Linked DNA regions of Homo sapiens. The protein of the gene in region 1 interacts with the protein of each later gene in a pairwise test. Each region holds a gene or a part of one and is shown on either strand. Other genes may lie near its edges.

Region 1 (3,795 bases):
GGGTCGGGGGGCTAGGGAGGGATAGCATTAGGAGAAATACCTAATGTGGATGATGGGTTGATGGGTGCAGCAAACCACCATGTCACATGCATACCTATATAACAAAACTGCACGTTCTGCACATGTACCCCAGAACTTAAAATATAATTTAAAAAAGAGAAGAAACAATGTGTAGAGTTATAAGTTACAGTGGAGCACACCTCACACTGAATCTAGGTATCCAACATTTCATACAAAAAGGTTCAGCTTCCAAAAAGCCAATAGCTGAAAAAAAAGTTACTACAACAATAATTTCCATTAAGAAAAAGAAAAGTAGGAGCACTCAAAACATAAAAACCCTATACTTACAAAATATGACTATGGTGTGAGTTGAGAACAAATAAAAATTACGTTCCTTGGATCAAGTAAGGGACAACAGAATGTCCCATACTCTCATCCAGGCATGGTGGCTCATACCTGCAATCCCAGCACTTTGGGAAGCTGAAACAGGAGGATAGCTTGAGACTAGGAGTTCAAGGCTACAGTGAACTATGATTGGGCCACTGCACTCCAGCCTGGGTGACAAAGCCAGACTCTGTCTTAATAAATAAAAACAAAACAAAAAGATAAATAAATAAAAACTCTCATTACTTAAGATTTTACGACAATCAGTACAACTCAAAACCAATGATTTGGCTATAAATTTTAACTTTCATGCAAACCCCAAACAACCCTAAAATATGTTATTTGGAAGAATTACTTTTAGAACCACCAAAATTCAAAGATACTATTTAAAAATCCAGAAATAAAAACAAATTTGAATCATACAAATTTTCAGTATCATTTAATTCTTTAATACTTTGGGGACATTTCCTTTTCCTTTAACAAAAAGAATAGAAGTGATACTATATACTGCTAGTAGAAAATTAAGAGCTTTTCTATAAAATCCTATGAAATTAAAATTAAATCGTCTTATTTTTAAAAATGCAAAAGAAGCCAGACAGTAGACTTAACAACCATGAAGCAGACCCACTTCCCTCTGAACCAAGGATTTCCTATGCTTTTTAGATATCCCTTCAGAAAAGGCCTTCTCTAAATTAACTGAACAATTCGGAATACCAAGAAGTAGGTAGAGAGCAGGAATGTGAGCAGATCATCGAATATATGTTTTTACTCCATGGTGACTAAAATGAAGTCCATAGATAGGAGCAGGTGAAGAAGAAAACAACACAATCTCCTGATGTACAGTTGTCACTGACCCAGAGCAGTCTGCTGCTGTGACTCTCTCTGCCTGTGACCTGAGGGTCAGTTGCTTCATTAGATGCAATGGAAATAAAACTGAACGGGATCTGAAGAAAAATTTTAAAATGGAAGGTACACCTCAATAGTTTTTACTTTTGGTGAAGTCATATGGTTTCCACCACTGAGCAAACTGCAGTGCTTTTTTCCTCTGATCCTCAAAGCTTTCTCGGATGCCTTTCCTCCAAAGTCTTGGTTCTATATCCAGCATCCCACCTATGATTTCCTTTTAAAGAAAGAGAAAAGCACAAACACAAGCATGTATAAATAATGAAAACAGAAATGAAACTATTTCTGTTTATTCTGCTATAAAATATAACAAGTTCTTCTCCATGACAATGTTCAAGCATAAATACTAGTTGAAGTTAAAAAAATATGTTTTCAGTTAATTCTAACTAGGCAAACCGTGTGATTCTAAGAGTCCAAGTTAGCTGCATCTCCTATCAAGCAATTTGTCCATTTTGTTGCTTATTAGCACATCTACTAGATGGTAACAAAGGGGAGGGAAAACAAGTGAAATTTAATTAATATGATCTCTATTAGAGGCTCCCGTAAACAATTTTGCAAAAATGTTAATCAACTTCTAGCAATTATTAACTTTACTGCTCAACTGCAGTTGAATCCCAAGCTAATGTTCTCTCTCTGCTACCAAGTATATTTATAAATTAGTTTCTTCCACTATTAGCAGAAATCTTTTTTCATGAAACAAAATCCTATTGTAATACTAGTTTAAGTAAACCTATTGATAGAATTAAAAATTATATATCACTTTCATTTAAAAAATCACATTCTCAAGTCCCATAATAAATGGCTTTTTGGTTATCTGATTATTATTCTTGATTTCCTTCATGATCCTCTTCCTGTGCTGTTAGCTATAGAAATAAATCAAATTTAGGCATGTGAGTATCCATGAACAGAAAGACATGGGGGAGCCTCCTAATGCTTAAATGCTTAGAGGGAGGGCAGTATGGTAACAAAGCAAAAAACAAAAAACAAAACAACAACAACAAAAAACAGACTAAGGATCAAATTCTGCATAGTCGGTCTAGCTCCACCAGACTGTGTGGTGAGATCCTGCACAAACCACATAATCTTTCAGATGCAGGTTCTTCATCTTACTTAGGGACCTACTATGCAGAAGCAAATGCCGTATGTTGTAGGGGATACAGAGATTGTGGGGTGAAGACACACAGTTGTCTTCAGACAGAATAGAATCTGGAGCTGTGGTGGGAGGAATAATAATCCAGCTATGCAGCAGACTGTCTCATAAAGTAGAAGGTAAGTGTCAAAGCAGACCATTTGTGGAGACTCAAAAAAAAAAAAAAAAAAACAATCTATTTGTTGGCCAGACCAGGAGATGCTTCATGGAAAAGGGAATCTCCTGTCATCAGGGAAGGGAAATAAAGGGGTCAACAGAGATAGTAGAAAAGAGAAATAGGGCAAATTGAGATTTAGTTCAAGAGTTTCTCAGCATCGGTCCAAATAAGCAATGTAGTTTAAGAAAGCCTAGCTTATAAAAGTTTACCTAAAATTGTCTATAAAATACCAAGTTTTGTCTTACATCTACCATATAAGCTTGACTCTTGTTCTGTTATCAAAGCAGCTGTTAATGGAAAGACTATCCCCATAATCTCTTCTTGCTCTCTGAACAACTGCTTCAGCAGCAGACTGCAGGGAGGTCTTGAGCCCACAGGCTATTTCTTAAAAAGCAAATTTTGAGGAAAATGGCTCAGTGACGCAATGCTGACAGAGAAAATTTACTTTTAACTCCAAAACTGAATCATATAAACCAGAATGCATGAATAATATGTGAAGAAAGGGCAATCTCCCAGTTTAATATATACAACTTTTTAAAAATGGATATTTTACTTCCTTTTTTCTAGGACCAAATTTTTGTTTTGTTTTGTTTTTCTGTTTTTGTTTTTAATAAATCCAGCCATAGAGCTTTTGGTTATAAAGCTCTACTGTATAACAACAGGATTTTTCAGAACAGTGAAAACACATTTCTTTCTAGTTAAAAAAAATTCTGAACACTTCTCAAACTTGTTTCTGTAATATGTTATAACAGTTCAAAGATGCATGTTACTTTGTTATGCTGGTTAACCCACTAAGGACAAGAGCATTAAAAAGTTTTGAATCAAACCTCTGGAGTTGAGATTCCTCTTCAGATATTTCTACTCATTGCAGAAGATGTTCCTCTGCAGGAGATGAAAGTGGGGAGCAGGGTGGAGAACAGGGAATCCCAAGCAGAGTTCACCAAGGCCCCTCTTTTTCAGAGGGCCTGGCTACATAGGGATAAATATGAATGGAAAGGCCTGATCTATACTAGATTAAAGGCTCACTTCTAGAGCAATCATTGCCCAGACTACTTTTGACTGTTTCAGTTGCTGCATTAACTTTATTCCAGTTCCTGACACTATTCTGTAGACTTTAATTTAAAGATTATACCCCACAGAATATAAGAAGGCAATCTGTGGTAGTGAATCAAAAGATCTGTATGCTAATATCTGCCCAGAA
Region 2 (8,179 bases), on another chromosome or scaffold:
GGATCACTGAGGTTAAAAAAAGAGAAGCACTATTTTTCCAATCTGCTTATCATCCCACCTCCACTTCCCATCCTCCTGTGTTTAGTGTTTACTTTTTTTTTTTTTTTTTGAGACGAAGTTCCGCTCTTGTTGCCCAGGCTGGAGTGCAATGGCATGATCTCGGCTCATGCAGAGGCAACCTCTGCCTCCCGGGTTCAAGCAATTGTCCTGCCTCAGCCTCCTGGGTAGCTGGGATTACAGGTGCATGCCACCATGCCTGGCTAATTTTTGTATTTTTAGTAGAGATGGGGTTTCACCATGTTGGTCAGGCTGGTCTCGAACTCCTGACCTCATGATCCGCCTATCTTGACCTCCCAAAGTGCTGGGATTACAGGCATGAGCCACCGCACCAGCCTTAGCATTTACATTATTATGATTTTTTTTTTTTTTTGAGATGGAGTTTCACCCTTAATGCCCAGGCTGGAGTGCAATGGCGCGATCTTGGCTCACTGCAACCTCTGCCTGCTAGGTTCAAGCAATTCTCCTGCTTCAGCCTCCCGAGTAGCTGGGATTACAGGCATGTGCCACCACACCTGGCTAATTTTGTATTTTTAGTAGAGATGGAGTTTCTCCATGTTGGTCAGGCTGGTCTTGAACTCCTGACCTCAGGTGATCTGCCCACCTCGGCCTCCCAAAATGCTGGGATTACAGGTGTGAGCCACCATGCCTGGCCTCATTATTATGATTATTATGATTATACGAATACACGTATGATCCATGTGGATAGTTACAATTCTTTTTCTTTCCTGTACCATTTTTGTTTTCCCTGGAATTAATAACTGCCTTGTCCTCTCTGTTTGCTTAGTTTCCTGTGTACTCTAATTTATCCCCAAATTCTCCCTTAATTAATCTCTTATAAGGATATACAAACACTTAGGGATTTCAATCTACGTCATTTTGAAGAACTTTCTCAAAAAGCTCTTAGACCTGCTCCAGTCCAGAGAGGCGATCTTGAGGCTGCGCAATTGGGATCTCCCTTCACCTTTATCCTGGGGATCCCCTTTGCCTCTCTCTTGTGTTGACGTCCTGTTTCCTGGAACCTGTGTTTCCTCTTTCTATGTTTACTCTTCTTATTTTGATGGAGCTTTTTGAGAAAGAGTACCGGGAGGTAAATTTGTTGGGAACTTAAAAGCCTGAAAATGTCTGTTCTATTACTGCACTTAATTGAGAGTGTGGGCCGGGCGCAGTGGCTCATGCCTATAATCCCAACACTTTGGGCAGCCGAGGTGGGTGACCCACCTGAGGTGAGGAGTTTGAGACCAGCCTGGCCAACGTGGTGAAACCCCGTCTTTACTAAAAATACAAAAAAAACAAAAACAAAAACAAAAACAAAAAAAACAAACCTAGCCAGCTGTGGCAGTGGGCACCTATAATCACAGCTACTCAGGAGGCTGAGGCAAGAGAATCACTGGAACCTGGGAGGCAGAGGTTGCAGTGAGCCGAGATCATACCACTGCACTCCAGTCTGAGTGGCAGAGTAAGACTCTATCTCAACAACAAAAAAATATTGAGAGTGTGGCTAGGTATAGGAAACGAGGTTGGAAATAATTTTTTTTTTTGAGACAGAATCTTTCTCTGTCACCCAGGCTGTATGTAGTGCAGTGGTGTGATCTCGGCTCACTGCAACTTCAGCCTCCCAAGTTCAAGAGATTCTCCTCCCTCAGCTTCCTGAGTAGTTGGGATTACAGGCACACGCTACCACGTGTGGCTAATTTTTATATTTTTAGTAGAGATGGGGTTTCACCATGTTGGCCAGGCTGGTCTCAAACTCCTGACCTCAGATGATCCACCCACCTCGGCATCCCAAAGTGCTGGGATTACAGGCGTGAGCCGCCGCACCCAGCTAATTTTTGTAGTTTTGGTAGAGAAAGGGTTTCGCCATGTTGCCCAGGCTGCTCCTGAACGCCCGAGCTCAAGTGATCTGCCTGCTTCAGCCTCGCAAAGTGCCAGGATTACAGGCATGAGCCACCACACCTGGCCTTGGAAAATTTTGTTGAATAATTATTACTATTGATTTTAGATGATTTTATCCTTTCCAGATAATTATTTCTGTTATCACTTTCTGGAATTCTGGTTATTCAGATGTTGTATCCCATGGACTAATCCTTTAATTTTCTTATACTTTATTTTCCTTTCTTCTATCGCCTTTATTTATTTTTGTTTTTTATTTTAATTTTTTGAGATGGAGTCTCGCTCTGTCACCCAGGCTGGAGTGCAGTGGCACAATCTTGGCTCACTGCAACCTCTGCCTCCTGGGTGCAAGCGATTCTCCTGCCTCAGTCTCCCGAGTAGCTGGGACTACAAGCGCGTGCCACCATGCCCAGCTAATTTTTGTATTTTTAGTAGAGATGGAATTTCACCAGACTGGTCTTGAACTCCTGACCTCAGGTGACCTCAGGTGATCCACCCGCCTCAGCCTCCCAAAGTGCTGGGATTACAGGCATGAGCCCTGTGCCTGGCCATGGTTGCAATATTAATAATTATTATAAATATTAATAATTTTTCCAGTGTCTTTCTTCTGCCATCACACTATGAAGTCAGAGACTTCCAAGTCTGTTTGTCTCCACCATTAAATACAAAAATTTAAAAATTAGCCAGATGTGGTGGCTAAGCTCAAAGGGCAAAAAAAAAATAAAAGTAAATTCATCACCTTATTTTCTAAACCTTTATCTCCTATGTTATCTCTTCCATGATTGGCATTACCATTTACTCTAATCCAAGAAGTGGATGGAACATAGGACAACTCCCAGAATGTGAAGTTTTCCTGCTACTACCCTTATTTCATGACAGTTTTTCCTATTTTGAATTTCCCCAGCATTATTTATTATTATTATTACTATTTTTTGAGACAGAGTGTCGCTCTTTTTGCCCAGGCTGGAGTGCAATGGCACAATCTGGGCTCACTGCAACCTCTGCCTCCCAGGTTCAAGCAATTCTCTTGCCTCAGCCTCCCAAGTAGCTGGGTTTACAGGCATGCACCACCATGCCCAGCTAATTTTTGTATTTTTAGTAGAGATGGGGTTTCACCATGTTGGCCAGGCTGGTCTTGAACTCCTGACCTTGTGATCCACCCATCTTGGCCTCCCAAAGTGCTGGGATTACAGGCGTGAGCCACCGCGCCGGGCCACTATTATTATTATTTGTTGTTGTTGTTGTTGAGATGGAGTCTCGCTCTGTCGCCCCAGCTGGAGTGCAGTGGCACGATCTCCGCTCACTGCAACCTCCGCCTCCTGGGTTCACGCCATTCTCCTGCCTCAGCCTCCCGAGTAGCTGGGACTACAGGCGCCCGCCACCACGCCCAGCTAATTTTTTTTTTTTTTTTTTTTTTTTGTATTTTTAGTTGAGATGGGGTTTCACCGTGTTAGCCAGGATGGTCTCGATCTCCTGACCTCGTGATCCGCCCGTCTCGGCCTCCCAAAGTGTTGGGATTATAGGCATGAGCCACCGCGCCCTGCCATTATTATTATTTTTAAAGAAGAAATTTCACTCATTGCCCAGGCTGGAGTGTGGTGGCATGATATCCACTCACTGCAACCTCCACCTTCCTAGGTTCAAGCGATTCTCCTGCCTCAGCCTCCTGAGTAGCTGGGACTCCTTCCGAGTAGCTGGAACTACCACGGCTAATTTTTTGTATTTTAGTAGAGACGAGGTTTCACCATGTTGGCCAGAATGGTCTCCATCTCCTGACCTCGTGATCCGCCCGCCCGTGATCTCGGCCTCCCAAAGTGCTGGGATTACAGGCCTGAGCCACCGCGCCCGTCCTAATTTTTGTATTTTTAGTAGAAACAGGGTTTCGCCCTGTTGAGGCTGGTGTCAAACTTTTGGGCTCAAGTGATCCACCGCCTGAGCCTCCTAAAGTGCTGGGATTACAGGAGTGAGCCACAGCGCCCGTCTGAAACTATTCTTAAAGCTTTCTTTCTATTCTTTCTTTCTTTTTTTTTTTTTTTTGAGACTGAGTCTTGCTCTGTCGCCCAGGCTGGAGTGCAATGGTGCGATCTTGGCTCACTGCAACTTCTGCCTCCCAGGTTCAAGGTAGTCTCCTGCCTCAGCCTCCCGAGTATCTGGGATTACAGGCGCGTGTCACCACGCCCGGCTAATTTTTGTATTTTATTAGATGCGGGGTGGGGGGGGGGGTGGGTTTCACCATTTTGGCCACGCTGGTCTCGAACCCCTGACCTCAGGTGATCCGAGGACCTCAGGTGATCCACCTGCCTCGGCCTCCCAGAGCGCTGGGATTACAGGCGTGAGCCACCGCGCCCGGCCAAAACTTTCATTGTATCACAATCTCTTCAAGGTAAGAGCCATGACTGTTAAATCTACTACAGTAGAGAGTTACAGATTCTTAAAATATCGGCGATGCATACGCGAAGAGGGTAAAGCTCAGCGCGTGCGCACCAAGCACCTTTTTCCTTGCGGCGACTCCTCTTCTTTTTTTTTTCTTTTTGGAGCGTGCGCACCAAGAAAGACAAAGGTGGGGAAAGTGACCAAGCAGTCGTTCAGGCGCATGCCCATCCCTAACTTGTCCAAGCCCGGTGGGGCCAGCGGCGGCGGAGTGGGTGTGGCCTGAGCGCTGTGTGACTGTGCGGACGCCGCCCAATCGGACTGAGCGAGCCCGGCCCCTCCCTCCCCCTGATTGGTTGGTTCTCAGTGTTGTGGGGCGGGGAAAGGAAGAGACGGGGTGGCTGGGCGGTGGAGCGGTGAAGAAAGAAGGCTAATCTTGTTCTGCGCAAGCGCTAGCAAGCGACCAGGAGGGGGAGTGAGAGAGTGAAAGGGAATGTGGAAGCCCCGATGCGCTAGCTGGCGCTAGCTGGGGCTCTAACCTTGACGCCTGCGCGGTGGCCCTCGGGGCCCCGCGCGCAGCGGGCGGGTGCCCGGTGCGCCTGCGCAGTAGGCGGCGGTGGCAGGGGGAGGTGGAGGCTGTGGAGCGGCAGCGGCAGCAGCGGGTCCCGGGACTGAGGCAGCAGCGGGGGCGGCGGCGGGCGGAAGCTGAGGTGACGAAGGCAGCGGCGGCGGCGGCCGTTTCCCTCACGGTGGCGGAGACCAAGGCGGCGGCGGCGGACGGGGAGCGGCCCGGCCCCGGCCCCCTGCTCGTTGGCTGTGGCAGGGCCGCCGTGGGGCCGGCCCGGCTCCCGCCCCCCGCGGCTCCCCCTCCGGCTCCTCCTCCGGGGAGACGCCGGGGGCCTGGCCCGGCCCGCACTCAGACTGCTGCTGCAGCCGCCGCCGGGGGAGTCGGAGGCGGTGGCGGCGCCATGGGCGGCCTGGCCTCTGGGGGGGATGTGGAGCCGGGACTGCCCGTCGAGGTGCGCGGCTCCAACGGGGCCTTCTACAAGGTGAGACGGCGCGCCGACTGGGGACGCCGGTCCTTAGCCCCCTCCCCTGGCCGGAGCAGGAACGCGTGGGGCGGGATCGAGCTTCTGGAGCTGAGTCCTGGCCCTTAGAATCTTGGACCCTTGCTCCAACCCGCAGCCTTCCCTGGGAGACCGCTTAGAGTGAACCCTGTTCCTCTTATTTTTGACCCCTCTAAGGCACCTGCACCTGCTTCTACCCCCATCTCCGGGAGAATGAACTTCAGGCCATTATTGTCCCTGGCTTGGCGCTCCCCGCTCCGCAGGAGAGACCCCTTTACCCAGCTTCTAATTGACTGTGTCCGTTGTCTGGTGGAAGACATACCTTAGACCTTAATCACATCTTCCCCACGATCCAAGCACATGGAGAATTGTCTTTCTTCCACACGGTCCCTTTGGGAAGGCCCTCTGTCCCGTAAAAGATCCTTTCATCTTCCTCAGAGAGGCCTCTGCCTACTGGCTCTGGAACACTCACCCCACTTTCATCTTATATTCCGGTTCCCAAGCCAAGGAGAAATGGTCAGATCCATTTACGACGTTTGGCATCTTTGACCTCAGGAACCCTGGGTTGGATCAGTCAAGTTGCTTCCCAGCCAGCCATAAGGTGGCATCTTTCGCAAGTCTCTCTCCCCACCACACCTTGATCTCAAGACCCACTGCTCTACCATTCTACTCAGGAATGGATTTGAGGTCTCACTTAGACCTCAGATACCTTCAGGTCATTCATATAGTTTCTTCGTCTTGAGGCATGTAAGCTTCATAGTCATAATCTCTAAAAGGATCTCTGAAAGGAAGCTTATGAGGTTCCCTTCTGTTTATCTTAAGATTTCCACTTCTTGAAGACTCTTGGCCAACTATCCCAGTTCGGGAATCTGACAACCTTTTTTGGAAGACGGGATCATCTTTCAAAGACCCTTCCTTATTTCACCTCCCCCTTTGCCCAGGATTTGGTTCCTTAGAACTCCTTATAATACCACCTTCCTTATCTGCTCTGAATCTATTTTCTAGGACATTTTTTTCCCATTTAGATTAAGCCAGAGAGAGCCCTTTCTTGCCTCCCAAGAGTTTTTCTTTGTGTGACTGTTGGTATTCTGAACCTCTTGGATTTGATGCCTGGAATTGTCCTAGAGACTCTCCTGATTTCTGTCTCATTCTTTGATTTCACCCTGGGGAGCTGGGGAAGAGATACCTTCCCATGGCATCACTTGTTAAGAGTGGATCCCCCTTCCCCCTTTCCTTCAGTTCCCCTCAGGCCTTTTTCCCCCACTGTAGTCCTCTCTAGTTTCTCATGCCCTTGGAAATGTCTTTCTTTGACTCCTTCTCTAAGTCATATTTTTCTATAACTGCAGAGGGTCTTGTAATTTCTCTTGGGTGGTTTCTGCCTGTACTTCAGTTGCTAAGTGCATTGTAGTCATTTTTTTTTTTTTTTTTTTTTTTTTTGAGATGGAGTCTCGCCCTGTTGCCCAGGCTTGGAGTGCAGTGGTGCGATCTTGGCTCACTGCAAGCTCCGCCTCCCTGGTTCGCGCCATTCTCCTGCCTCAGCCTCCCGAGTAGCTGGGACTACAGGTGCCCACCACCATGCCCGGCTATTTTTTTGTATTTTTAGTAGAGACGGGGTTTCACTGTGTTAGCCAGGATGGTCTCGATCTCCTGACCTAGTGATCCACCTGCTTCGGCCTCCCAAAGTGCTGGGATTACAGGCGTGAGCCACCGCGCCCGGCCATTGTAGTCATTTTTTACTCACTCTTCATACTTACCCATTTTTGCCTTACTTCCCTCATCAGATTTATTTCTCTGCGGTGACTGTGGGTACCCATGTCTAACTTACCTTCTCAATTCAAGTTTTTAGCTTTTTCTCCTAATATTTCTGTATTCCTGTGTAATCCCCAGGAATCACCTTATTCCCTGTCTAGCTGAAGGAAGCTCCCTGCTGATCTCTTTTTGTCATTTTGTGCATACTTGCCTAACTCTTGGGACTTTTTCTTCTAGCCTGCCTCCATAGCATTTCTGTTTTCTTTGGCAAAAGTCTCTAATTCCTTTCTGCTTTTGATAGAGCACATTTGTCTCTCATATCCTTTTCCCCAAACTTGCATTACCTTTGTTGAAATAGCTTCCTAAAGTGGCCCTCCCTGTTTACCTTGGTATCTTTTCCTTCATCTGGGTCCTTACCACCCCCAAATTCTGAGTTCCAAGAAAAGTGATTCTTAAGTTGAGTCCAAGATCAAGATATGATGTTTGCTTTGTTCTAGGAAGCGTAGGAGCCCTGCACAGCTGAGAAAGATTGGTATCCAGTTCAAATGAACTGTATGAGATGGCTGGGAAGGGACACGTTTTCTGTCCCACATATAAGTGTCCAGCAGAAAGTCTCTCTGAATCTTTTCCCTTTCTCCTGTGTGCTGTGGCAGTGATAGACTTGAATAGATGGGGACCAGGATACTGTGATTCAGAGAGTAGAGTTTGGGGTTGAGCTGAAAGCCAGGTAATGTGGTAATGTGGATCTGGGCAGGTTAGCATTTTCTGCCCTGTTCCTGAGTTAAAAACCACAAATCCCTAAATTCAGGCTAATCTTCCACTCTCAGTACCCTACAGATACTTATCCGTTTTGACCTTGCTGCTGATTTAATATTCATGACTCAGCAAACTTGGGATGGGTCAGGGAGTATTTACACTGCTTCTGGAATTGTACATTTGGGAAGGTCCCTTTCTCCTCTCTCAGAATTGGGCCCTGTTGTCAGTTTTCTTTTCTTTCTTTTCCTTTTTTTTTTATTTGAGACAGGGTCTCCCTCTGTCATCCA

The links.
Region 2: the proteins of CWF19L2 (region 1) and FXR2 interact in binary tests that used the Homo sapiens proteins (3 or more experiments, as listed by UniProt).

What each region holds. Positions count from the first base shown.
Region 1 is NC_000011.10:107,325,550-107,329,344, forward strand, and holds the end of CWF19L2 (CWF19-like protein 2), read right to left. Parts: intron 1,505-3,795; coding exon 1,361-1,504; 3' UTR 811-1,360; downstream 1-810.
Region 2 is NC_000017.11:7,611,642-7,619,820, reverse strand, and holds the start of FXR2 (RNA-binding protein FXR2), read left to right. Parts: upstream 1-4,923; 5' UTR 4,924-5,288; coding exon 5,289-5,369; intron 5,370-5,709; exon of another isoform or gene 5,710-5,757; intron 5,758-8,179. UniProt on the Homo sapiens protein: mRNA-binding protein that acts as a regulator of mRNAs translation and/or stability, and which is required for adult hippocampal neurogenesis. Specifically binds to AU-rich elements (AREs) in the 3'-UTR of target mRNAs.